2 separate regions of the Homo sapiens genome follow, and region 2 is linked to region 1. The links come from fine-mapping of genetic effects on gene expression. Tissue or cell type: prefrontal cortex. Region 1 holds a variant in brackets; the other region holds the start of a gene. All regions are shown on one strand. Distances are between the middles of the regions. Region 1 has its middle 3.7 kb from the start of LINC02714. Region 2 holds the start of LINC02714 (long intergenic non-protein coding RNA 2714).

Region 1 (2,912 bases):
ACACATGGAAATTTACAAGGAAAAGTTTTGTTGTGGACGTATCCAAAGAAAACGTGTCTATGCAGATGTAGTGGCAGAAGGGTGTGATGCCTTTACTCACTCATCCTAAGGCTCACAGCTGACACTCCTACAACAGAAGACAGGCTGACGAGAGAAAAGCATAACAGATTTACTTAAAGTTTCATATAATACAGGTGCCTTGAGAAATGAAGATCTGAAGCTGCAGGGGAACCATCTGTTTGTATCCTTAGGTTCCATGAAGAATGGACACTGTGGAGAAATGTGCTTGGACAAAGGGGGATGGTCTGTGGTGCTACACGGAGGCCTCCAAGGCCTGTCTGTGTGGCTTCTTCTTGGCTTTTCTGCATAGCATTTCGGCCTCCTGGGTATGGGCAGGACCCCTCTGGAATGAGGGCTCTCAAGGGAGAAGGGAGAGAGTGAACTTTGTAACCAAAAATAAAATTCTGAGACCCCACCGACTGTATAGACCCTCCTCTTGGCTTAGCGGACCTCCAAGAAACCTGAAAAGCTAGTTCAGGATGTAACCAGAAGAGGGGATCAGACACGCCTCGCTATCCCCTCTTCCCTTTGGAGTTTAGACACAACTGATCGGCACTAACACAAAAACAGAGATCTGAAGACAGACAAGCAGACTCTTTGTAGCCATGAGATTCCAAATTCTAGCCTGACTCTGGTATAGCATCATATGACACATAGCAGGCCCTGGAAGAAGTCAAAGTATTTTATCCCAAAATACATTTATTTGACATATGTCGAAGATGTTGAAGCGGTTCTGCAAAGCTGTCTCTTGTGGGGTAAATCTACATTCTATAGAGAGTCTCCTTCCCTTACTAGGTCTTTCCAGAGAGTCTGACACCTTTTGAGGTGTGATAAGAGACCTTCCACATCTATTCTCTCTGAAGCCTGCTACCTGGAGGCTTCAACTATAAGACAAGAACCTTGTCTTCCACAACCCCCTTATGTAAACTTAAGCATTTCTTTATGCTGAGTTTCACTCTCCAAGCAGGACTTAACTCTTTCAAACAGCTACCAATCAGCACATCTTTGAACCCCCCTTGACCTGGAAGCCCCCTTCTTCGAGCTGTCCTGCCTCTCTGGGCTTGCCAATGTACATCATACAAGTATTGATTTATATCTTGGCCTGGAACTTCTGTCTCCCCAAAATGTAGAAAACCAAGCTATCACCAGACCACCTTGGGCACACGTTCTTCTGAGGCTGTGTCATGGCCCATGGCATGTGTACCCGAGGTGGTTGGACAAAACAAACCTCTAAGTGGATGCGGACCTGTCTCAGATACCTTTTGGTTTACACTTGTCTATTGTCTACGTAAAGAAGGAAACTGTGGCAAATTTAATGCAGAGAGTTTATTTGGGCCAAGGTTGAGCACTTCACAGTCCGGGACACACTGTGAAGTGCTCAGGGAACAAAGGAGAGGCTCAAATTTTTAAAGAAAAAAGGATGAATCAGGAAAGGGGGTGATTACACAAGTTGTTGGTCAGGAATTCTAATTGGCTTGCAGAAATGACATTGATTAGTTATTGGTTATATATTGTTGAATGACAGGATGTGAGTTATGGTGTCCAGTGTAGGATGGCCATTCTTGTTAGATTAATTTATAGCTACTGGTGGCAACACTCAGTCCTGAGTCCA[C/T]ACACCAGGTGGCTTTGAAATGATTACTTACCTCAAGGTGCCTGCGGCATGACTCCTCTCTCATTTTAACACCTCCCAAGGCCTGATAATTTCTCATGTTCCTCAGATTGAAACTTTATTTTCTTTCTCACTAGGTTTCAGGGCTCGCTTTGTGGGAGAGGAGGTCCTTGCTTCCATGGCTGCCATGGGGAAGAGGATTCTGGCTTCTGTGACTCACGTCAGCAGGGAACGGGTCTGAGGCAGAGGCACTCAGAGCTCGGCTTCTGAAGCCTGCCAGGCTCCTTTAGCTCCAGTGCTCAGCATGCCGGAGCCCCACACTGTGGGCTATTGTTCTCCAGGTTATTTCTTTGTTAAGCTACATGCTGAGTCGTCTAGGCGCAAAGCCTCTGCCCCTCCTCCCCAAGGTATGTGCAGCACCATGCAGGCACATCATCAATGGTTATTAAATAAATGAATACATACCTTTTATTCTTTGCAAGAAAAGTCTTCTGTTTCTTTGTCCTGGCTCTTACCCATCTCTCCAGGCTTTTCTAGCCCCAGAGCCGACAGTCCAGCAGGAGATGACAAACACAGTCAACTTTTGGCCAAAGATTCTAAACCATGGAAAAGGGCCAGCTGGGGACTGGTCTTGTGAAGTGCATGGATTTGGGCTTTTATTAAGGCCAAGGAAAGACCAGTTTCCTCCTAGGAACAGGATAAAACTGAGCAAGGAGAGGTTTGGCTGGGGCTGGCAGAGCAGCAGGTGCTGTCCACTGGAAGCCTGTGTGCAATTCAAAGAGATGAGAGAAGCCAGACCCCAGGGAGGAGATCTCAGCTGGGAAACTCAAGGGCAAGGATGCTCTCAAAGATAACGGCTGCATTGTTTCCAAATTTTCAAAAAACTCTGTTAAATGTTCTATAAACCTCATTAGCCTTACAAATCATGAGCCTTTAGCCATGCAGACATAAGAGACTTTTAGATATGCACGTCTCTGGCTGACCCAGGAAACCCTACCTTAAAATGACTAAAGAAACTGCTAAGAGGTAGCTCAGCACAGCCCCAGACTGAGACAGGCTCCTGTGAGGCATTCAGGAGAGGGGCAGCCACCAGGAGGGCCTGCCTCTTGTTTAGGCTGAGAGGGCAGAACTCTGTGCTGTGAATTGAGGAAGCTGGGAAATATTTTTTCAATTAAATATTTCAGCTGTCAGCCTGCCAGAATACCTGAAATTCCTCATAAGAATCCATATTTGGATTTCATAC
Region 2 (2,912 bases), 3.6 kb before region 1:
CAGGAGATCCCACAGGTGATGACCGCCTGTGCCTCCTGTCCCTCCCAGGAGATCCCACAGGTGATGACCGCCTGTGCCTCCTGTCCCTCCCAGGAGATCCCACAGGTGATGACCGCCTGTGCCTCCTGTCCCTCCCAGGAGATCCCACAGGTGATGACCGCCTGTGCCTCCTGTCCCTCCCAGGAGATCCCACAGGTGATGACTGCCTGTGCCTCCTGTCCCTCCCAGGAGATCCCACAGGTGCTGTGGTTGTGCTGATGGAGGAGTGGTGACAGGGACGCAGGCAGAGAGGGGCAAAGTCTCACAGGGGCAGAGGGTGTCTGTGCCAGGTGGAGGGGCCTGGGGAGGAGATGGAGTGGCCTCTCGTGGAGGGGCAGGTACAGGAGCCAGGCAGAGCCCAGGGACAGGCCCATGCCAGCACCAGCCTGGGATGTGAAGGGATGACCTCAGGGCAGAACTCTCAGTGCAGAGCTCAGCACAGAACAGGACACCATCTGGGGAGAGTGGAGGTGCCGCTCATGTAACTGAGCACTGAGGACAGAGGACACATTCCCAGGAGCCTTCTGCTGGAGTCCACACAGGGGAGGGAGGGAGAGGGGGAAGTGCCCTTTTTCTTGTTTATCCTGTGATTCCATGGCTCACTGCCGTTTCCACAGCCTTTCCACTCCCCAGAAAACTGTGCAGCTCCGTTAATGATTTTCTCCAAGACCTTGCAGCTGATAACTGAGCCAAGGCCCAGTCCTGGACTCTGACTTCAGGATCCCACATGGGCTCCCGTGTACCATGAAGCCACCCGGATGGCCGTGGACAGACCCTTCAAGAGACACTTACCGCTGCTCTTCATTGAGTTCCAGCTGCAGTCCTCAAGGGGGATGAGGGGCATTTGTCCCCACCCTCAAGGGACATTTGGCAATGTCTGGCGTCGTTTCTGGTGGTTGCACCTTGAGGAGGGGCGCATATGCTCCTGGCATCTGGTTTTCTAGTGGGGAGGCTGGGGATGCTGCCAAGTGCCCTCCAATGCACACAGCGGCCACGGTGGAGACTGCAGCCTGAAAAGTGGGTGGTGTTGAGGCCGATACTCTGGCCCACCACGATGCCATGTCCTCCCTCTGACAACCACAATCAGGAAGACTTCTTCAGCTCGTCCTTGTGCCCCCAAAGTCCTCGTTCCCACGGGCCCCCAGGAATGGTTCTGGGAGTCCTTCGTCGCTTTCATGGGGGTGGTATGAGGCACTCCAGCTTCGTCGTGCCTTGTCTGCACCTTGTTCCCAGCACCGTCCTTCCTGAGCCCAGGGAGTCAGAATCCACAGTCTTAGAGTCTCCACCAGCAACATCTCAGCTCAGCTGAGGGTCATTCCTACTTTCAGAACAGGCTGACAGTGGGGCAGCCAACCACTCTGCCCACGAACCCCAGTTCTCCGTCGCTCACCACTCTGCCCACGAACCCCAGTTCTCCGTCGCTCACCACTCTGCCCATGAACCCCAGCTCTGCGTCGCTCACCACTCTGCCCACGAACCCCAGTTCTCCGTCGCTCACCACTCTGCCCACGAACCCCAGCTCTGCGTCGCTCACCACTCTGCCCACGAACCCCAGTTCTCCGTCGCTCACCACTCTGCCCATGAACCCCAGCTCTGCGTCGCTCACCACTCTGCTCACGAACCCCAGTTCTCCGTCACTCACCACTCTGCCCACGAACCCCAGTTCTCCGTCGCTCACCACTCTGCCCACGAACCCCAGTTCTCCGTCGCTCACCACTCTGCCCACGAACCCCAGTTCTCCGTCGCTCACCACTCTGCCCATGAACCCCAGCTCTCCGTCGCTCACCACTCTGCTCACGAACCCCAGTTCTCCGTCGCTCACCACTCTGCCCACGAACCCCAGCTCTGCGTCGCTCACCACTCTGCCCACGAACCCCAGCTCTCCGTCGCTCACCACTCTGCCCACGAACCCCAGTTCTCCGTCGCTCACCACTCTGCCCATGAACCCCAGCTCTCCGTCGCTCACCACTCTGCCCACGAACCCCAGTTCTCCGTCGCTCACCACTCTGCCCATGAACCCCAGCTCTGCGTCGCTCACCACTCTGCCCACGAACCCCAGTTCTCCGTCGCTCACCACTCTGCCCACGAACCCCAGTTCTCCGTCGCTCACCACTCTGCCCACGAACCCCAGTTCTCCATCGCTGCGGAGATGCTTTGGAGCCACCGCTGGGGGGCCCTCTCCAGCCCACCCCAGCCTCCTGACACAGTCTCCCCCGAAGACTCAGCTTCAGTCCTCCCCACAGAAAACTCAGAAACAGGAAATGAATAAAGGACCACAGGCTTGGCTGATTGGCAGAAGACAATGGAGGAGCTAGTGTTTGACAAAACAGTAACGACACCTCTGATGGCAGAGCCGCGCAGTTAGCATCTTCTTCCCAAATACAGCAAATTACCCAGCAAGGGCAGGAAGCTTTGGCAGAATTAATCACTACCTGGAAAACAATTTCACACTAGAATAAACAGGAGAGAGAGGGAATAACAAATGCATTGCATTGTCCAGTTGTTAACCTGGGCCTTGATATATATTAAAAAACAAGGCAATTACTTCCAGCAATGACAGAAACTCATCTTGTTTAGCAAAATAAGATAAAGAAGTCTGGGGGTGGAGAGCCAGCGATCTGAGCGAAGACATCCTGAGATGATAAATATCTCATGTCAAGCCCGCACTCAGCCGCAGGCTTCTTGGAACAGAGGCAGCCAGCTCCGTTCCATCTGAGGGAGCAGAGGAAGGAGGAAAGGCACAGAACATTGGAAAGGGAGCGGGCGTCAGCTACCAAGGAGTTGTTATAAAATATAGAAGCAAAACATTAAAAATGCACTGTTATTTTTCAATAAAACCATCCCATGTCTTTGCAGAAGGGTTTAGTTCCTGC

The links.
Region 2: LINC02714 starts here. The variant in region 1 is fine-mapped to the expression of LINC02714 in prefrontal cortex (GTEx, PIP above 0.99). The same link has a PIP of 0.9 or more in anterior cingulate cortex and cerebral cortex.

The regions. Positions count from the first base shown.
Region 1 is chr11:134,730,830-134,733,741 of GRCh38, reverse strand. No RefSeq gene overlaps it. Among named protein-coding and RNA genes, the nearest start is that of LINC02714, 3.7 kb to the left of the region's middle. The variant C/T (reference allele first, on the strand shown) is at 1,673.
Region 2 is chr11:134,734,462-134,737,373 of GRCh38, reverse strand. LINC02714 (long intergenic non-protein coding RNA 2714) reads right to left here and starts at 1,429. Exons shown (of 2, transcript NR_147836.1): 1 at 832-1,429.